Linked DNA regions of Homo sapiens. The protein of the gene in region 1 interacts with the protein of each later gene in a biochemical or structural test. Each region holds a gene or a part of one and is shown in the gene's direction. Other genes may lie near its edges.

Region 1 (7,107 bases):
CATCTGATTCCCACCTAGTGACCTCATTTAACATTTATCAGCTCACAGGCCCCATTTCCAAATACAGTCACATTGGGGATTAGGACTTAAATATATGAATTTTAGGGGGGTACAGACACTCAGTTACAAACATTCAGTTCCTAACAGTTGTAGAACTTGATTATTTTATTTATTTATTTTATATATATATATGTATTTTTTTTTTTGAGACGGAGTTTTGCTCTTATTGCCCAGGCTGTAGTGCAGTGGTGCCTTCTTGGCTCAACCTCCAACCTCCCGGGTTCAAGCAATTCTCCTGCCTCAGCCTCCCGAGTAGCTGGGATTACAAGTATGTGCTACCACGCTCAGCTACTTTTTGTATTTTTAGTAGAGACGGGGTTTCTCCATGTTCGTCAGGCTGGTCTTGAACTCCTGACCTCAGGTGATCCACCCGCCTCGGCTTCCCAAAGTGCTGGGATTACAGGCGTGAGCCACTGTGCCCGGCCTGATATATTTATTTTTTGAGACGGAGTCTTACTCTGTCACCCAGGCTGGAGTGCAGTGGTGCGATCTTCACTCACTACAACCTGCATCTTCCAGGTTAAAGTGATTCTCCTGCCTGAGCCTCCAGACTAGCTGAGATTTCAGGCGTGTGCCACCACACCTGGCTAGTTTTTTGGTATTTTTAGTAGAGATGAGGTTTTACCATGTTGGTCAGGCTGGTCTTGAACTCCTGGCCTCAAATCAAATGATCCACCTGCCTTGGCCTCCCAAAGCGTTGGGATTACAGCCATGAGCCACCTCGCCCAGACAGAACTTGATTATTTTAAAGCAATGATGTGCCTGCCATTTATAAGGCATTATTTGGGGGAAAAGGGAAAGCCTAGGTAACGTGTAGGAAGGGGTGCAACAACCTTGTTTTCCCAAAGAGCTCTTTATCCAGTCTGGAGTGCAGTGGCACGATCTCGGCTCACTGCAAGCTCTGCCTCTTGGGTTCACACCATTCTCCTGCCTCAACCTCCCAAGTAGCTGGGACTACAGGCACCCGCCACCATGCCCGGCTAATTTTTTTTGTATTTTTAGTAGAGACAGGGTTTCACCATGTTAGCCAGGATGGTCTTGATCTCCTGACCTCATGATCCACCCGCCTCGGCCTCCCAAAGTGCTGGGATTAGAGGCGTGAGCCACTGCGCCCAGTCTTTTTTTTTTTTTTTTTGAGACGGAGTTTCACTCCTATTTCTCAGGCTGGAGTGCAATGATGTGATCTCGGCTCACTGCAACCTCCGCCTCCCAGGTTCAAGTGATTCTCCTTCCTCAGCATCCAGAGTAGCTGGGATTACAGGCACTCACCACCATGCTTGGCTAATTTTTGTATTTTGTAGAGACAGGGTTTCATCATGTTGGCTAGGCTAGTCTCTAAGTCCTGACCTCAGGTGATCCTCCCGCCTCGGCCTCCCAATGTGCTGGGATTACAGGTGTGATCCACCGCGCCCAGCCAAGAGCTCTTTATTCTAAGAGAGTGGCAGAAATGTACATCAACTGCTTGAAAGATTTAACCCACCAAGCGTCAAGCGCAGCAAATGCTGTGAATAGAACTTTAGCACAAAGCATCTCGGTTCCAGATTAGAATGCTGATATTCAGGCCAGGCACGGTGGCTCATGCCTGTAATCCCAGCAGTTTGGGAGGCCAAAACAGGAGGATCTCTTGACCCTATGAGTTTGAGACCAGCTAGGGCAACATAGACCCTGTATCTACAAAAACTTAAAAAATTAGCTGAGCGTGGTGGTGCATATTGGTAGTCTCAGCTACTCAGGAGGCTGAAGTGGGAGGATCACATGAGCCTGGGAGTTCAAGGCTGCAGTGAGCTGTGATTGCTCCACTGCACCACAGCTGGGGTAACAGCGCAAGGCCTTGTCTCAAAGAAAAAAAAAAAAACCTGATGTTCTGGCATGGAGACGCCTCTGTTACAAACTGGCTCTGGCGACACCGTGACTTGCACTGGTTTTGGGGCTTGAAGGAGACTGTCCTGGCAGTTAACGCTCAATGGAATGGGAAGAGCTTGACCACAGGTGATACTTGCCTTGGATACAGTACTTCCAATAGTACAGAATGTTTGCACAAATAAGATTTTTAATATCCGGTTTCATGGCAGTATCATTTACTTGTAGTAAAATTCACCTTTTTTGGGGTTCAGTTCCATGAGTTTTGGGAAATGTACTCACCAGTGCAGTCAAGATGTAGAACATGTTCGTCACCCTGAAAGGTCCCCCTGAGTCCCGGCTCCTGGCAGCCACTGATCTGGTTTCTTTGCCTTCTGCTGCTTCCAGCGTGTCGTGACACAGGGTCACAGGGTGTCTGCCATCATCTTCTGCGCCTGGCTTCTTTCCCTGGCACGCACCTTGTTGCATGGATGAGCAGTTTGCTCCTTTCTGTTACCGGGTAGTGTTCTGTGGTTTGGATGCACCATGGCTTGTTAGTTTACAACCAGTGGATGGACATTTATACTGCTTCCTGTTTTTGTAAGAAATAAAGCTAATATAAACATAAGTGTGCAGTCTTTGTAGGGACATACATTTTTCTCTTAGCTAAGTAACTATGAATGGAATTGCTGGGCCACGTGGCCAGTGTCTGTTTAACTTGCTGAGAAACTGCCGCATTGTTTCCCATGTGCTTGTCCATTTTGCAGTCCCACAGCACAGTACGAGAGTTCCAGGTTTTCCACTTCCCTTTTGGCCACTTGTAGGTGGTCAGTCTTTTTTTTTTTTTTTTTTTTTGAGACAGCGTCTTGCCCTGTCGCCAGGCTGGATTTGCAGTGGCGCAATCTCAGCTCACTGCAACCTCCGCCTCCCGGGTTCAAGCCATTCTCTTGCCTCAGCCTCCTGAGTAGCTGGGACTACAGGCACGTGCCACCATGCCCGGCTAATTTTTTTGTATCTTTAGTAGAGACGGGGTTTCACCATGTTGGCCAGGATGGTCTCAATCTCTTGACCATGTGATCCGCCCGCCTCGGCCTCCCAAAGTGCTGGGATTACAGGCGTGAGCCACCGTGCCCGGCCCGTGGTCAGTATTTTCAGCCAATTCTTATTTGGTGTGTAGTGGTATTTCATGGTTTTAATTTGCATTTCTCTGAAGATTAATGATGTTGAGCATTTTGTCATGTGCTTAATTTGCCATCCATATCTCTTCTTTGATAAAGTGTTTAAATTGTTTTAAGTTGCATTATTTACTTTCTATTTATTGAGTTATCAGAGTTCTCTATACATTCTGGATACAAGATCTTTGTCAGATATGTGTTTTACAAATATTTCCACCAGTCCATAGCTTGTCTTTTCATCTTTTTAAACAATATCTTTGAAGAACAGATTTTTACTTTTTTTTTTTTTTGAGATGGAGTCTCGCTCTGTTGCCAGGCTGGAGTGCAGTGGCACGATCTCAGCTCACTGCAACCTCCACCTCCCATGTTCTCCCACCTCAGCCTCTCAAGTAGCTGGGATTACAGGTGCATGCTACCATGCCCGGCTAATTTTTTGTATTTTTAGTCGAGATGGGGTCTCATCCTGTTGGCCAGGCTGGTCTCGAAGTCCTGGTCTGAAGTGATCCGCCCGCCTTGGCCACCCAAAGTGATGGGATTATAGGCGTGAACCACCGCCCCCAGCCTTACTTTTTTTGTTGTTGTTGAGCCAGAGTCTCGCTCTGTCGCCCAGGCTGGAGTGCAGTGGCGTGATCTCGGCTCACTGTAACCTCCGCTTCCTGGGTTCCCACCATTCTCCTGCCTTAGCCTCCCGTGTAGCTGGGATTATAGGCGCCCGCCACCATGCCTGGCTAAGTTTTGTATTTTTAGTAGAGACTGGGTTTCACCATGTTGGTCAGGCTGGTCTTGAACTCCTGACCTTGTGATCCGCCCGCCTCGGCCTCCCAACGTGCTGAGATTACAGGTGTGAGCCACCACGCCTGGCCCAGAATTGACTTTTTTTTTCTTTTTTTGAGTCGGAGTCTTGCTCTGTTGCCCAGGCTGGAGTGCAGTGGCACCATCTTGGCTCACTGCAAGCTCCACCTCCTGGGTTCACGCCATTCTTCTGCCTCAGCCTCCTGAGTAGCTGGGACTACAGGCGCCCGCCATCACGCCCAGCTAATTTTTTGTAGTTTTGGTAGAGACGTGGTTTCACCATGTTAGCCAGGATGGTCTCGATCTCCTGACCTTGTGATCCGCCCCCCCCTTGGCCTCCCAAAGTGCTGGGATTACAGGTGTGAGCCACGGCACCTGGCCCACATTTTACTTTTGACAAACCTCAGCTTATTATTATTATTTTTTCCTGGTTTGTGCTTTTTATATCCTATCTGCGAAGTCCATGCAAGACCCAACGGCACTAAGATTTTTGCCTGTCTTTTCCACTGGAAGTTTCATAGTTTTAGATTTTACATTTGTCTCTGTCTGGCCATCCTTACACAGCCACAATACTGTATTGTTTACTATAGCATGATGGTAAGTCAGTTAAGTAATATGAGTCTTCCAGCTTCATTCTTTTTCAAAATTGCTTTGGTTTTTCTACACGTTTTTTCTGTGAACTTTAGAATCAGCTTGTCAGTGTCTACAAGCCCTCTGGGATTTTGACTGGAATTGCATTGAATGTATGAAACAATCTGGAGGACAGCTGACATTTTAACAATACTGAGTCTTCTGATTCACACACCCATAGGTCAGTGATGGGAGCAAGGCTCAGGCTAAAGCAGATTCAGGGTGTCTTTCTGTGTGGAACGTTTAGGAAAAGTATGTTTGCATGCCACTGTCTCCTGACCAAACCCTTCGCTTTTTTGTCTTCTAGTATCTTTATGTATCCTTATAGATTATTATAGGCAGTAATGATTAATGATGAGATATTAAAACGCCTTTGTTCTTTTGATTTAAGGAGAGGGCAAGTATTGAGGATTTTCCCTCTTGCTTTTGTATTCAGGGCCGGGCGCTGGTGGCTCACGCCTGTAATCCCAGCACTTTGAGAAGCCGAGGCGGGCATATCACGAGGTCAAGAGATCGAGACCATCCTGGCCAACATTGTGAAACCTCATCTCTACTAAAAATACAAAAATTAACTGGCCCTGGTGGTGTGCGCCTGTAATCCCAGCTACTCAGGAGGCTGAGGCAGGAGAATCGCTTGAACCCGGGAGGCAGAGGTTGCAGTGAGCTGAGATCGTGCCACTGCACTCCAGCCTGGGCCACAGAAAGAGACTCCGTCTCAAAAAAAAAAAAAGAAAAAAAAAATCCCAAAGTGTCAGAATTACTGTATTCAGCTATAGATGCATCCCTGTATATAAGATGCAGTTTCTTATACGTGTACAAATGCCTATCGCAGGCCAGGTGCGGTGGCTCAAGCCTGTAATCCCAACACTTTGGGAGGCTGAGGCGGGTGGATCAAGAGGTCAGGAGTTCAAGACCAGCATGGTGAAACCCCGTCTCTACTAAAAATACAAAAAATTAGCTGGGTATGGTGGCGCATGCCTGTAGTCCCAGCTGCTCAGGAGGCTGAGGCAGGAGAATGGCTTGAACCTGGGAGGTGGAGGTTGTGGTGAGCCGAGATGGTGCCACTGCACTCCAGCCTGGGCGACAGTGCGAGACTCCATCTCAAAAAAAAAAAAACAAACAAAAACAAAAAAAAAAACAAATGCCTATCACAGTTGGCTCAGTCACTTTTTCTGTGACTGTCATTGCTTCAATTTTATGTTGATTTATGAAACCTAAGTTTACACAGAAAAGAAATTAAGGACTAAATTAAGATACTGAAGAATTACTTAAGCCCCTGAGTTTTTTTTTTTCTTTTTTTTTTTTTGAGACAGAGTCTTGCTCTGTCACCCAGGCTGGAGTGCAGTGGCGCCATATCGGCTCACTGCAAGCTCCTCCTCCCGGGTTCTCGCCATTCTCCTGCCTCATCCTCCTGAGTAGCTGGGATTACAAGGCGCCCGCCACCACGCCCGGCTAATTTTTTGTATTTTTAGTAGAGATGGGGTTTCACTGTGTTAGCCAGGATGGTCTCGATCTCCTGACCTTGTGATCTGCCCGCCTCGGTGTGAGCCACCGGACCTAGCCAACCCCCTGAGTTTTTTTAAAGTTCTAATAATACTCATCAGGTTAGCTGTGTATGCAAGCATATTGTAAAATTGCTTTTTTTTTTTTTTATTTCCAGTTGGAGTCTAGCTCTGTCGCCAAGGCTGGAGTGCAGTGGCGCGATCTCAGCTCACTGCAACCTCTGCCTCCTGGGTTCATGCGATTCTCCTGCCTCAGCCTCCCAAGTAGCTGGGATTATAGGCAACCGCCACCATGCCCAGCTAATTTTTGTATTTTTAGTAGATATGGGGTTTCACTGTGTTGGCCAGGCTGGTCTCGAACTCCTGACCTCGTGATCCATTCACCTCAGCTTCTCAAAGTGCTGGGTTTACAAGTATGAGCCACTGCGCCTGGCTGTAAAATTGCCATTTAAGAGGCTGTGTGTAACTGGAGGTATTGATGGGTGTCTTTGAGAGGGTGGGGATTCAGAAAGGTTCAGGATGGGCCGGGCGCGGTGGCTCACGCCTGTAATCTCAGCACTTTGGGAGGCCAAGGTGGGCAGATCATGAGGTCAAAAGATCGAGACCATCCTGGCTAACATGGTGAAACCCCGTCTCTACTAAAAACACAAAAAATTAGCCAGGCGTGATGGCGGGCGCCTGCAGTCCCAGCTACTCTGGAGGCTGAGGCAGGAGAATGGTGTGAACCTGGGAGGCGGAGCTTGCAGTGAGCCGAGATGGTGCCACTGCACTCCAGCCTGGGCGACAGAGCGAGACTCCGTCTCAAGAAAAAAAAAAAAATTTCTTTATGTCTTTCTTGGTCAAGTGTTTTTTTTTACATATGTACAATGGGGATCCTGAGTTGGAACCACATACTTTGGTAAACAAAGTGCAGTAGTGTTCACAGTTACCACGATCATATCCCGTGTTGACCCACCCTCTCTTTTTTAGGTTGCGACCTTTCCTTCCCCAGCAATAAACTGGTCTCTGGAGATCACTGTAGAATTGTAGTGGATGAAAAATCAGGTCAGGTGACACTGGAAGATACCAGGTGAGTATGTTCTGAGCTTCTTTTGGTGTTTCTTCTTGTA
Region 2 (7,543 bases), on another chromosome or scaffold:
GGCTAGAGGCTCACAAGGCTACCCCGGGTCCCCTTAACAGAGCCACCTCAGTCACCTTTACTCCTTTATTGCCTTGGCACATTTCTAGTCTCTGAGGTTCTCTCTGAGATCTGCAGAATACTGAGGCCACTCTCTGGGAAATGTGGCATAGCTTCCTTTTCTTGTGTAATCTACAGAAACTTTGCTAGACTTTCTAGCATTCTCCCTTTGTGCAGATTGGCCCAGTGTGATGGTATTCTAGGTCTTCTCTCTAAGACCCACTTAAGGGATTTACTCTGCAAACCCTCCTGCCTGACATTCTTGAAAATTCTCCTCAATTGAACTTTTATCTCCTTTGGAGTGAAAGAAGCGAACAAACAAGCAAGCTCTTACATCATCCTACTTTCTTCAGTCTATGAGTTATGATATAAGCTTAAAAGTTTCTGTATTGAAGCCAGATTTCTAGATATTCAGATTCTTCTCTTAAAGCCCCTCCCTGCTGCCTGGTCCCTGCCCCCACACCAATGGCTTTAAAATTCTATTTTGCAAAGTGTAAAAAACATTTTTTTTTGAGAGGGAGTCTCGCTGTGTCACCCAGGCTGGAGTGCAGTGGAACGATCTCGGCTCGCTGCCATCTCCGCCTCTTGGGTTCAAGTGCTTCTCCTGCCTCAGCCTCCCAAGTAGCTGGGACTACAGGTATGGCACCATCACCCCCTGCTAATTTCTGTATTTGTAGTAGAGACAGGGTTTCACAATGTTGGCCAGGCTGGTCTTGAACTCCTGGCCTCAAGTGATCTGCCCACCTCGGCCTCCCAAAATACCAGGGTTACAGGCGTAAGCCACCACACCCAGCCTAGAAAAGGCCTAGAAAAAGTGGCTCACGCCTGTAATCCCAGCACTTTGGGAGGCCAAGGCGGGCAGATTGCTTGAGCTCAGGAGTTCGAGACCAGCCTGGCCAATGTGGCAAAACCCCCTGTCTACAAGAAATACAAAAATTAGCCTGGGGGTGGTGGTGCCATGCCTGTAATCGCAGCTACTTGGGGGCTGAGGCTGGAGAATCGCTTGAGCCCAGGAGGTCGAATCACGCCACTGCACTCCAGCCTGGGCTACTGGAGTGAGACCCTGTCTCAAGAAAAAAAAAAATTTTTTTTTTGAGACAATTGTGAACATTTGATTATGAACTAGTTATTAGAAGATACTAAGAAGTGATTTGTTATTAATTTTGCCAGGTCCATGGTTTTTAGAGAAATTAGTGAAGGCCATTATAGGCAGGGTGGGTTGGGAAGTGACCCGAGAAATGAAGCTACTGTGGGAGGAAGAGCCACATATGCCATTCTTGGATTTCAGGCTCACTGAATCAAACGGGAGTGACATGACATGATTAATTTGCATAAAGGTTCTGTGTGTGTGTGTGTGTGTGTGTGTGCACGGGCATGTGTGTGTGTGGCTAGGGGTGCAGATGAGAAGTGTGTTTGTGACTGGGAAGTGGCTGGCTGGAGAAATTTTGGATTCCTTTCCTTTCCATACCATTCCTACCTAAATTTATCAGTGAACATTTTGGTTCTCTTGGCTTCATCACCTTCCCTTTCCAAGCCACCACCATCTCTTATCTGAACACAATAATTTTCTATCAGTTGCTTCTATCCTTGTTTCCTGTAATTCTCCACAGAGCTGCCAGCATTTTTAAAAGCCTAAATCAAGTCGTTATCCTCCTGCTCGAAACATTCAATGGCTTTCCATTGCAGTTAAAACACAAATTTTACTGGAGACTCTTAAGTTCCTATGTAACCTGGCCCTTATCTTCCCCACCGTCCTTTTAGTGCCACTTTCCTTCTTACTCACCAGCCAAACCCCACAAGCCACCCTACAGTTCATTTTCCAGTTACAAGTGTTCATTTTTCATATCTACTTGTGATGCTGTTATCAGAATAAATCAAGAAAAAACCAAAAAAGTTAATTTTTCAGAAAACATTATTTAGTATAATAGTTTTGAAATTGTAATTGCTGTAACATTTTAATCAAACTAGTACAAATTGTACTTGATCTTTAAATATAAAACAAAGAATGATTAAGGGAAAGAATGTTTTACTCCTGGTTCTGGGATGTGAAATATTGATAACATAGAGAAAACATACTGTGGGAGGAAGAGCCACATATGCCATTCTTGGATTTCAGGCTCACTGAATCAAACAGGGGAGTGACATGACATGATTAATTTGCATAAAGGTTCTGTGTGTGTGTGTGTGTGTGTGTGTGTGTGCGCGCGCGCGGGCATGTGTGTGTGTGTGGCTGGGGGTGCAGATGAGAAGTGTGTTTGTGACTGGGAAGTGGCTGGATGGAGAAATTTTGGATTCCTTTCCTTTCCATACCATTCCTTTAAATAGCAAATTTTAGTTCATTCAAAGCACATTCTTTAACCATGGGACAGTCATTATTCATAGATCTTAAGTCTTTTTATTTTTTTGAGATGGAGTCTCGCTCTGTTGCTCAGGCTGGAGTGCAGTGGCTTGATCTCGGCTCACTGCAACCCATGTCTCCCTGGTTCAAGCGATTCTCCTGCCTCAGCCTCCCAAGTAGCTAGGACTACAGGTGCGTGCCACCACGTCTGCTTAATTTTTGTATTTTCTTAGTAGAGTCAGGCTTTCACCATGTTGGCCAGGCTGGTCTCGAACTCCTGACCTCAGGTGATCCACCCAACTCGGCCTCCCAAAGTGCTGGGATTATAGGTGTGAGCCATTGCGCCTGGCCAGTCTTAAGTCTGAAAGAGCTATGTTCTCATATTTGGAATTTTTTCTTTGTCTAGTGAGCATGACTTTCTTACTCTTACAAAACATCAATTTGAGCAATTTCTGGCATATTTTCCAAGAATTTATTTAAAATCTGGCATACTAAAAGCTGAACTGTATTGCCATTTGCCTCAACACACTTCAAGAAGAACATACAACAATTAAAATAATTTGAAATGCCATTGTCTTTATCTTCCTCATCAACTTTGGTCAAATGAAATAATACATTGTTTCAAATTCTATTGCTCATCCATGGTTCATGATTAGAGATCACTACAGTTTATTTACGATAATGAACAAATGTGTCTTGAAAAGCTGACTACCGGCCTGGCACGGTGGCTCATGCCTGTAATCCCAGCACTCTGGGAGGCCGAGGCGGGCGGATCACCTGAGGTCAGGAGTTCAAGACCAGCCTGGCCAATATGGTGAAACCCCGTCTCTACTAAAAATACAAAAATTAGCTGGGCGTGGTGGCGGGCTCCTGCAATCCCGGCTACTCCGGAGGCTGAGGCAGGAGAATCGCTTGAATCCGGGAGGCGGAGGTTGCAGTGAGCCAAGATCACCCCCATTGCACTCCAGCCTGGGGGACAGAGCAAGACTCCATCTCAATAAAAAAGAAAAAAAAACAAAAAAAAGAAAAAAGAAAAGCTGACCACCTAATATTATTGTGCTGACAGGCGTGTAACATGGACCTCTCTGTGACGCGCAAGTATTATCTGGCAGTTACATGGTGCCGCCTGTGCAGCTGGGCGCCACCACCAGCTTCCTGCCCTGTGCGATTAAAAGGCCAGCTTCGGGGACAGCAGCCTCCTCAACGCAAAGCGACCAGCCCTGCCAGGCGTCGGCTGCAGCTGGTCCAAGGTTGACGGTCCCAGGGCCGCATTCTCCTTCCGGTCACCTCAGACTCTGGAAAGAGAGCCATGGAGGGCCTCAGAGCGCCCCTCTGCAGTTCCTTGAGGAAAACAAGGGCCTCCCCCTCTTGGCTGGAGCAGCCAAGTGCCCACGGGGAAAATGGTCCCGTCCACCATTTCAGGCAAACGCCCCCATAGCTGTAATAAACATGTGATGGGTTTCCTGCACCAAGAAAGGAAAATTTTCCTTAAAAATAACAAAAAGAGGTGGGGAGGGGACTCTAAGTTCCATTTAAGATTTTCCAAACTCGTTGTGTCTCATGCATACGCTGAGGCTTAACATGAAAATTTGGAGCGAAAGTCCCCACGGTTCACCACAGGGAATGAAGTAAAGTATCTCGCCGGTAGCTCTAGGTCTCGTAAACCGTGGAGCTCCTTTAGTATAAGGCCCTATTATGTGCCACATTAGATGAGAAGAAAATAAGAGGAAGGATACGGTAGAGCCTTTAGAATGGGGTTCAGTCTTAGGACTCGTAGGATAAAGGAAGGTCGTTTCCCTCCGTTTGAGGCAGGGAATCAAACAAAACACCGGCACCGCAGGCACCGCAGTCGCACTCCTGGGGCCTCGTGGCTTTCCCGCGCGCCCGCCTTGGGGGCGGGGAAGAACCCGGATGGAACCACCCTTGCAGCCCGGACCCCCCGCCGTCTTTGAATGGCAGCGGGGCGGAGTTGCCCTCCCTTCTGTGCTCTGACTGGTTTGGCTCCGCACTCTCCTCTTCGTGATTGGGCTTTCCTAGTGCCAGTCACAGAGCGACGCTGGTCTCCCAGATTGTTGCAGAAGGAGACGGCGTCGACGTCTGACTGGACTCGCGGCGACTTACCTTTCAGTCGTGCGCTCCTGATCCGGCGCTCGGAATTTGTCCCCGGCTTCAGGGCTGCGGGGCCTGGAAGGAGGCGTATCGAGGCGGCTCGAAAACGATCCAGGGGAGCCGAGGCGCTCCTCTTGTCATCCCACTCAGCGCCATGTCCTGGATGTTCAAGAGGTGAAGGGGGCGGAGGGGGTGGGGCGCTCGGTCTAACGGCCTGGAGGCGTCCCCAAATGAACCTGACCTTCCCCGCGTTCCTCTGCGTTCCCTGGGCGATTTGTGCAGCTGTATTCGTTCTGTTGGTCGCATATGTGGCCGCCGGAGAAATAAATGCATTGTCTTCGCTGGCGAGTAGGGGCTCCTAGGGCGAGTCCCGTGTTAGGGACTTGGGAAATCTCTGTCACCGACTGTGGGGGGCCTGGGGCTTAAAGCATCTCGGCCAGTGCTTTATTTAACAAAACATCCATTAGATACCCACTGTGCGCCAGGCATTGTGCTCGGTGGAGGGCCGAGTAAGACAGTCCTTGTCCCCAAGTGGCTCACAGCTTATCTGTATGCACAGACGTGCAGATAAGTATTTGCAGAGGCGCTAGTAGAGATATGCGCCACTTGCAAGGAAAACGCATCGCAAATAAGCGACTGTTCTTAGGAGAATGGAAACTTTTTGCAATGCTCCAGTAGACTCCCCTTCACTTTTCATTGTCCAAATTGGTATTTATGGTCATTCCCGAAACAGTTACACCTAATGGGTTTGGGGTTATGCTTAAACCGGCGACGGAAGGCGGGTACGGGTGGCTTGGGGCCAATTTCCCACGGTGGCGTGGTTTGGATACCAGAATAGGTGTTCTGCTCGCAGGGAGTTACAGTGATGGATGCTGGATGTATTTTCTGGAAAATTATAAACAACTTCTGGTACATTAATAGTTGTATTTTTATAAGTCTTTTATATAGCTCAATCCCTATTGAAATTTTGGCATATGATTTCATTTTTTAAATTATTTTTTTGACATGGAGTCTCGCTCTGTCGTCCAGGCTGGAGTGCAGTGGCACAATCTCGGCTCGCTGCAACCTACGCCTCCCGGGTTCAAGTGATTCTCCTGCCTCAGCCTCCCGAGTAGCTGGGATTACATATGGGCGCCACCACGCCTGGCTAATTTTTGTATTTGTAGTAGACAGGGTTTCACAATGTTGGCCAGGTTGGTCTCAAATTCCTGACCTCAGGTGATCCACCTGCCTCTGCCTCCCAAAGTGCTGGGATTCCAGGCGTGAGCCACCGCATCCGGCCCATAATTGTAGTTACAGACATCATATACATATCAATTTAGATGATTTTCACTGGGAAAGAGGTTAGTGAACTCTGACTAGGCTTTTCATTTTGAATACCTAGGGGGCAGGTAGAAGAGCCAATATTGAAAACAGGTAGAGTTCCTAGAAGCCTTCTCCACTCACTGCAATTCCTGCTTTAACGAGAGTAACTATTAATCTTTACCGTGATTCCCATGTAAGATTTCATTTGCTGAAGTAAAGCATGAGAAAACTACTCATATGGTCTTTGGAAATACTTAAATATTATATTGTTTTTCTTTGCCTTTAAAAAAAAATAGGGATCCAGTTTGGAAGTACTTGCAGACTGTCCAGTATGGAGTTCATGGAAATTTTCCACGCCTCTCATATCCAACTTTCTTTCCACGTTTTGAATTCCAAGATGTTATCCCTCCAGATGACTTTCTAACTAGTGATGAAGAAGTAGATTCCGTTTTATTTGGAAGTTTGAGAGGTCATGTGGTTGGACTACGCTATTACACGGGAGTAGTGAGTATAATAGTAGATAATTAAATTTTGATTATATTTCTGGCGTTAACCTAGAAAATAAGAGAATTCGCAGGTGATGTGTGCGGTTAATCTTTATTTTACTTTAAGTTAGTTAAATATTTGTACGCAAAAAATAACAAATACCTTAAGTGACCCTCCCACCTCAGCCTCCCAGAGTGTTGGGATTACAGGAATGAGCCAATATGCTTGGCCTCAGTGCGTTATGTTTGGTTATTATGGGTAGCACCCCACCCCCACACCCCAGCGCCTTGTTCATGTCATCGATTTGTTGCAAAAAGGAGATCGTTTTGTGGAATCTTCTGGATTTTATTCTTTCATTTCTCCGTATGTTTCTTATGTTTAAGCTTCTCAATAGGGTGTCTGAAGCATGTTCGACAGGAGATTCCTTAGGAGTTTCATGTTCTGGATTTGTTTTTCTCCTGTATTTCCTTTACATTGGAACGTTTCAAATTGTTTTTTGATTGTCTGAAATGTGTTGTCTAGGAGATTCCTTAGGAAGAGACAATATTTCCTAAGTTTTTATATTTTCATACTTGTGGCATTTTATGAATGACAGTTTCATAAAATGAAAGTTATGAAGGACTTAATGACAGTTGGGCTGAATTTAAAATCTTTGTAATATATCTTTGTAATAAAATCTTTGTAATAAAATCTCCATATCCTAATGTTGCATAGAATTCTCAGGCCAGTGTGATTTTCTTTCACTTAAGTGAATTGGATTTTTTTTTTTTTCTTTTTTTTTGAGACCAAGTTTCGTTTTGTTGCCCAGGCTGGAGTGCAGTGGCCTGATCTGGCCTCACTGCAATCTCTGCCTCCCAGACTCAAGCAATTCTCCCAATTCAGCCTCCTGAGTAGCTGGGACTGCTGGCGTTCACCACCATACCCAGCTAATTTTTGTATTTTTTTTTTTTGTATTTTTTTTTAGGTTTTGGCATGTTGTCCAGGCTGATCTGGAACTCCTGGGCTCAAGTGATCCGTCCGCCTTGGCCTCTCCAAGTGCTGGGATGCTGCACCCGGCCTCTAATTTTTTCTAATAGATTCTTGAACTCTATCAGTTCTTATTTCACATCTATATATTCTCTGGCTCTCATATGCATTTCTGAGCTTTTCTGTTTCAGATTTGTGCTAATTTTTCAAAACTTACATTGCTTTCGATAATTATTTTATACCACCATGAAATACTAGATTATGGTAGTTATTGATCTTAGAACAATCAGTATTTTTGATC
Region 3 (7,107 bases), on another chromosome or scaffold:
GGTGCTGAAGGGAGCTGAGCAGATGCTCTGAATGGCTTCTCCCTGGAGACAGGTAGAAATGCAGCCCAGCTCTAATGATTGAATTGTCTCTGGAATGTCAGTCATGATGAATACATGTAATATGCATGCTTCCATACAGTCATACTTGTCTTGGTGTTTCCCCTCTACCCCTTCCATAATATTTGAAAAATAGGATTGAGGTTTGGAACCTGATCACCAAGATGTACATTTGGGTTTGATTGCTCTCCATTGTTAAAGTTTCTTTTTTGCTCTTGCCTTTTTCTGTGCAGAGGATGATGTGGACCTGGAAGCCCTGGTGAACGATATGAATGCATCCCTGGAGAGCCTGTACTCGGCCTGCAGCATGCAGTCAGACACGGTGCCCCTCCTGCAGAATGGCCAGCATGCCCGCAGCCAGCCTCGGGCTTCAGGCCCTCCTCGGTCCATCCAGCCACAGGTGTCCCCGAGGCAGAGGGTGCAGCGCTCCCAGCCTGTGCACATCCTCGCTGTCAGGTAGGTCCAGGCCTTATGGGCAGAGCCTTCTCCAAGGATGAGAGCTGTCGGCAGGGACACTGCTCTCTGTGAGTTAAATGGTGTTGGGGGGAATAGTGTTGGTCTTGCAAAGTCAAGAGGCAGATACATTGCTTTGATGGGATAACGGATACACTGAGTGTGTGCAGTGTGCCGCCCTTGGGTTGAACTTTGTAGCCAGTTCAATTCCAGTAGTACCTTTTATTGAGTGCCTGCTATGTGCAAGGCACTGTGCTAGGTAGAGGGATATGCAGGAAAACCACCAGAGGAAAAATCTCTGGAAAGATTGGAAGAACAGCCATGGAGCTGATTGCATGCCCCAAGTCCTCACTACCCAGAGTAGGGACGGGAGGCTAGCAGCTACAGCACCCCCTGGAGCTTGTCGTGCAACCCCAGACCTCCCTCAGAGTTGCATTTTGCCACATTCCTCTGCTAATTCAGGGGTAGGCACATCTCTGTGGAAACAGGGAGGCTGGAGGGAGGAACGTGCTGGGGACGTTGAGGGAGGTTCCTGGGAGGTAGGATTTCTGAACGGATGTCAAAGGGTGATAGGAGCTCAGATAGATGGAGGCAGAGGTTTTGTGAGCAGAAGAGATGATGCAGATGGGGGCCGGTGCTGAAGCACTTTGTGTGCCTTTTTCAGGAGCCACGTGAGAAAGAGTTCTGGACAGGCGTGTGAAGGGGCTGGGTTTGGGTTTTGACACCAGCATTCTGGTTGCCAGGGGTCGTGGGGGCAGTGGTAGAGGGCAGCAGGGTTGGCAGAGCATGGCCGGTTTGGAAGTGGTCTCAGGAGCCCCCGGATGGGAGATGATTGTGCGCTGCCTGAGGATGAAGAAGGAGGGGGGATTTGAGCACGTTGCTGAGGAGGAGCAGCTGCGTTTTGCCAGCACTTGAATTTTGCCAGGGCTGTGAGGAGACAGAGAGTGTGTGGAGGGTGACTTGGATTTTGTCTCGAGTGCCTGGGAGGAGGGTGTCTAGAGAATGGTCATGTCGAAGGTGAAGGTGCTGAGAGTACCTTAGACATTCTGAATGAAGATCTTTGTAGAATCAAGCTGAGAGCCAGGGGCAGCCCTCAAGGATCCGCCTGTCTGCCCTGTCGCAGTCGGGATGGCGTGGGGCTCCGTGGGACCCTGCGTGCCTCTCTGGGCCTTTGCGGAGGATGTACAGCCATCTCTGCTGGGACTGCCCCTTGCCCTCACTGGCCTCTGTCAGGATGGGGTTCTGGTGCCTTCTGTCTCAGCACCCCATCTTCCGGGGAGCTCTGTTCATTTCCTGGGCTCTTCTTGCTTCTAGAAACTTCTGAGAGTTTTCTTTGTGGTCTGACATCTTGGGTCTTCCGCAGCCCAGATAATCACCTTGCCCCAGGTGGCAGCTGTTTCTTACGGAGGGGAGAGGGTGCAGCGGCCCTGGCGCCCGTGGTCAGCTGCCTCCCCAGCTTCCCACCCCGGCTTCCCCTCCGACTTCTCACTTTTTGTCATATTCATTGATGCTGAATGATGCCTGTCCCAGGGTTTGTTCAACTTTGCTCTTTGAAGCGTGACCCCTTGTACTTAGCTCCTGAGGAGTTAAGTCTGGTGGGAGAGCTGTTTTTCTCTTGGGAGCATCTCTTGGGAGCATCACAGTAGCCTTGGGGAGTGCCTGGGAATATGGAGGTGCAGTTGCATGGCGAAGGTGCCCGAGGGTGGGCTGGAAAGCCAGAAGGCCTGCCTCCCTGCTGGAGTAGTTGCCCAGGACCCTTGAACCTCGAGTTCTGGCTGAACTCGCCCATATGTGCCCCGGGACTACCTGCGCTAAGTCCCTGGGATGGAGGGGCAGGCTTGCTCTGTGGGACAGCAAAGCCCTCTCCCTACAGGGTCACAGGTGCTGTTCCTTGGGCCCAATGTCTTCTCTCTGGTGTCCTCTCAGATAAGTAGTTTTGTTTCTTACTTTCAGGTGGATTAAAAAAAAATGTGGAGATCAATCTGGAATCACCAAAGATTATTTTGTGAAGTGAGGCCATTTGCTGAGTGCTTACTGTGTGCAGATGCTGATGAGCTCCTCCTTGTTATCAGTGCCCTCGGAGGGAGGCAGTGTGGGTTACCCTCGCTTCCCAGCTGAGGAAACCGTGGCACAGCGGGGCGGTAACTGGGCTCACCACATCAGGTGGGAAGTGGCCATGGAGCAGGCTGCTGGGTACCAGAGGTCACGGAGCATGGTCCACGCTGCAGAGGAACTTACCGGGGGCTGCCATGCAACCCGAAGGGAGCTGGGGGGCAGGCAGGGTATGGGCAGAGGAGACACTTGGGAAGGGCAAGAAGGCTTTGCACATAGGAAAGCCGATGGGTGAGCCGATTCTGTACAGAGAAGGAACCCAGGCTTTTGAGAGTGCAAGGGCCACGCATGTGTTCTAGACAAACACAAGTGAGCCAAGGCACAGAGAAGAAGGACCTCGCCCCTCAGCTCTGCAGTTCCTGCCACCATCCCTGACATCCCTAAATCTCAGCACCCCTCTCCATAGTCACTGTCCCTTCTATTGTGAGCCTCTTTGGTGGGGATTTTTTGTCTTTGTGTGATATCCCTTAGTCTTGCCTTAGGCGATGTCTCTGAGCCGCTTTAAAGTCAACACAGGACTTTTTAAAATGCTCAAAACAACCCAATAAATAGAGAAGCTTTTGTGGACACTAAAACGTCAGATTATCTTTTTGGGGTGAAGTCACTGGCTAGAAGCCGTGGATGGGAAAGTGGCACTGGCCACCCGTTTTATCCATCTCCTCCTGTATGACAATGGCCAGACGTTTCAGTTGGACGCCTTGCCAAGGCTGAAGCTGTTATGGGAAGAGTGGGATTTGTTCACAGTAAAAATAAACTTTATGGCATGTCATCAAACCATTATAGGAACGGCTTTCCTGTATTTCGCAGCACTGATTCCCTTCATGCCATGTGAGTTCTCGTAATTTTAAATCCATGCATCATTTGCTGGTCTACGTGGGATAGTTAGCTGGATCTTCCTTTAAAAAATAGGGAAAGTTGGTAAAAGAGAAAAAGTAATACAGTCACAAAATGTGTTTCTGTAGTGGCAAATCTCCTGGGAAAGCTAACGGATTGTTGATTTTGTGAAATCGTAAAAATTGTCAAAAAAATTACTTGAGGACACAGCCTATGATGGGGGTTTCTGAGGTATGTTTAAACATGGGGAGGGATTGGAAATGCCGAGTGAAGATAATGTGAGGTTTGCTCCCCTCTCCTTGAAGGTAGGAGGCTGCAGACAGGGCCGCGTGGCCTCAGGAAGGGTGGAGGAGGCTGTGTGTCCAGGAGTGCCCTGGAGGTGTGGGCCAGAAGTTACTCTACAGAGGGGAGGTGCCAGACACTTGACATTCGCTTTGACTTTGAACTTGATTTCTCTGCTGTTCACAGTTGCTTCTGATTCGTCATACTGTGTGTGTGTTGCATAGTTGTGTGACAAGTGGGTTGTGCATTTTTCGGAGGAGGGAACAGATGCCCCTGGAGATGTGCCAGGAAAGTAGAGGTGGTGTGTGGATTCAGCGTGTGTTTCCAAGGTGTGTTTCTAATGTGGACACAGGCTTTGCGAGGACAGATACATGAAGCTATAATTTCCAGTTAATTCAGTGTCAACAACCTTTTTATATAAGTAACCATCCATTGCATAATTCAGATGAGAACACACAGCCTTTTCTTGTATTTTCATTTGATTAGATTAATGCTCATTTCAAGGACATTGAAAAACACTTGGTTCTCATGAAAATGCTCATATTCAGAAAACTTTCACACATCAGGTATTCACTGATCAAACGGATGAGGTATTTGGAGCTGATGCCATGTCAGGCACTGAATGCTGCCTGAGATGAGCACGCACCCAGGACAACAAAACTTCGGCACCCCGCCCCCCGCCCCCGATGCCTAATGAAGAAGAGAATTGATACCCAATACCCTTTGGGTCTGAGAATGACAACTTGTAATTTTTTTAAAGTTTTCGTTTTAGTAAAATACATGTAACATAAAATTTACCATATTAACTGTTTTTTTCAGGGTACAGTTCGGTAGTATTAATGCACACTCACAATGGTTGTACAATCTCCAGAACTTTCTCATCTTATGAAACTGAAACTCTGTCCCCAATAAACAGCGATTCCCCATTGCCCTCCCCTTAGTCCCCTGGCAGCCACCCTTCTATTTTCTATGGGTTTGAATACACTACCTACCTCACTGGGTGAAATCACACAGTGTCTCTGGTTTTGTGACTGGTGTGTTTGACTCTGCATAATGTCTTCAGGGTTCATCCGTGTCGTAGCCTGTGTCAGAATGTGCTTCCTTTTTCATGGCTGAGTAGTGTTCCATGGTATGGATATGCCACATATTGTTCATCCATTCATCCATCTGCAGACCCTTGGGATGCCTCTACTTTTTGGCTTTTGTGAAGGATGCCACTGTGAACGTGGGCATGCCAGTGACTCCTAGAAGCCCTGTGTCCTGCTTTCTGGGTGTATCACCACAGTGGTAAGGCTGGGTCATGTGGGGAATGGCAGCTTTTAACAGGCACTTATCCCTGCCTTCCAGGCGCCTTCAGGAGGAAGACCAGCAGTTTAGAACCTCATCTCTGCCGGCCATCCCCAATCCTTTTCCTGAACTCTGTGGCCCTGGGAGCCCCCCTGTGCTCACGCCGGGTTCTTTACCTCCGAGCCAGGCCGCCGCAAAGCAGGTGAGTGTGCCCCTGGCTGGAGCCCAGGCTGAGGGATATGCCAGATTATTGGGATCTGCACAGATGTGCCAGATTATTACTTTGGGAAGAAGGGCGGGAAGTCCTGGGATCTTCTCTCTCAGTTCTTTTCTTGTTGTCACAGTACTTGTTGTCCTATGAGGCCGATACAGTTTGGATGTTGTCCCCTCCAAATCCCATGTGGAATTGTAATCCCCAATTTTGGAGGCAGGGCCTGGTGGGAGGTGATTGGATCTTAGGGGTAGATTCCTCATGGCTTGGTGCTGTCCTCACAATAGTAAGTTCTCACGAGATCTGGTTGTTTAAAAGTGCGTGTCATCTCCTCCCCTTGCTCCCACTCCTGCTGTGCGAGACGCCAGTTCCTGCTTTGCCTTCTGGCATGATTGTAAGCTCCTAAGTCCTCATCAGAAGCCGAGCACATGCCCGCACCATGATTCTTGTACAGGCTGCAGAACCATGAACCAATTAAACCTCTTTTCATTATTGATCAAAACTCTGTTTTATCTTTATATTTTAGAAAAAGTCTCATAAAAAATGGCAAATAATAACAATGATTTGATGTTTAAAGATGAATCTTAGTTCTTTGAAAAAGTTTCACCACTGGCTCAATAATAGGTGTGAAAATGCTGGGCTCACCCGGGCACCTGGATGTCAGTACACAGGAGTTGAAGAGTTTCTGTCTTGTAGTCCTGACTTTGAATATGATCTGCCGAAAGCAGAAGAGTTTCCATTGGACCCGCAGGGCAATAACCTCCTTTTTGAACTTGTAGTTTCTACTTAAAGTAGATCCATGAAGTAGATAGGACACAACCATTGTCCCCATATGAGGAAACTGAGGCACAGAGCATTTCAGTAATGTGTCCAAGGTCAAACAGCCAACAAGTCAGCTTAGCAGAGAAACTGGCAGAGAAAGGGGTTGAAAGTTCCTCCCCACCGGTTGGCAGGGCTGTGAGCCAGGATGGGCTGCAGCCTCTGGAGGAAGACCCCTAGGGGTGGAGGTGATCATTAGAACAACTGCGCCATCTGATGTTTATGGAGTGAGGGATTTCTGTGTGCCAGGCCTTGTCGTAAGTGGTGGATATGTTTATTTTTTGTTTATTTATATGTTCATTTACTCCTCATGCCATCCCGTATGAATTAAGTACGCATGTTCCCTCTGTTCCACAGTTGAGGGAAGGGAGGCCCCTGTAAGCAGCTGAGCTGAGTGTGGCTGAGACCTGATGGTGCGGCTGAGTGTGACCCGGCCTCAGAATCGGAGCCTGTGATTGCAGCCACTGTGCTGATTGGCTTCCCGGGACTTTGACTTTCCTTCTGCTAAATGCATATTTAGAAGTCATTTTGCCCTTCTACTTGAATCATCTCTTCTCCCTACTTGCTCTCACTTCCCTACCTTTGCTGTTCTCAAGCAAGACAGGCCAGCCATCCCTTTCTCTGCAAATCTGCCTGTCCTGTGCCATGCAAGGTCTGTCCTCTTGAGAGAGAGACCTTTTTCCAATACCCGCTGGCTCCCAAGTGTGGGTCCCGTTCTGACCTCAGGCCCCCGGAGCAGGCTGCATTATGGCACTATCAAAACTTAGAAGGTGAGGTAAGTGTCCCTCATCTGGGAGCCAGCACTGGCTGGGCTTGTGCACTTTGTCACATGTCTAAAGTGCATCTGGGATGTCTACCTCGCTGGTGACCTTCTGCTTCAAATAAGGATCCAGACAAGCTGTCTGTGGGTTTTGTCACTGAGGTTGTTTACAGAGCTACCCATTCTAAAATAAGACCATGAAAATATTATCTGGCTCTCTCAGCCTTTGGCAAGAAAATTGGCCTCCACCCCCAGGGATTGTCCAAATTTGTAAGCAGAACAAGGAAACCGG

Evidence for each region.
Region 2: the proteins of CHFR (region 1) and HLTF form a complex in vitro, tested with the Homo sapiens proteins (one study listed by BioGRID).
Region 3: the proteins of CHFR (region 1) and GRB10 form a complex in vitro, tested with the Homo sapiens proteins (one study listed by BioGRID).

Annotation. Positions count from the first base shown.
Region 1 is NC_000012.12:132,877,515-132,884,621, reverse strand, and holds part of CHFR (E3 ubiquitin-protein ligase CHFR), read left to right. Parts: intron 1-6,967; coding exon 6,968-7,067; intron 7,068-7,107. UniProt on the Homo sapiens protein: E3 ubiquitin-protein ligase that functions in the antephase checkpoint by actively delaying passage into mitosis in response to microtubule poisons.
Region 2 is NC_000003.12:149,083,433-149,090,975, reverse strand, and holds the start of HLTF (helicase-like transcription factor), read left to right. Parts: upstream 1-4,442; 5' UTR 4,443-4,639; coding exon 4,640-4,659; intron 4,660-6,086; coding exon 6,087-6,294; intron 6,295-7,543. UniProt on the Homo sapiens protein: Has both helicase and E3 ubiquitin ligase activities. Possesses intrinsic ATP-dependent nucleosome-remodeling activity; This activity may be required for transcriptional activation or repression of specific target promoters.
Region 3 is NC_000007.14:50,667,842-50,674,948, reverse strand, and holds part of GRB10 (growth factor receptor-bound protein 10), read left to right. Parts: intron 1-290; coding exon 291-513; intron 514-5,085; coding exon 5,086-5,227; intron 5,228-7,107.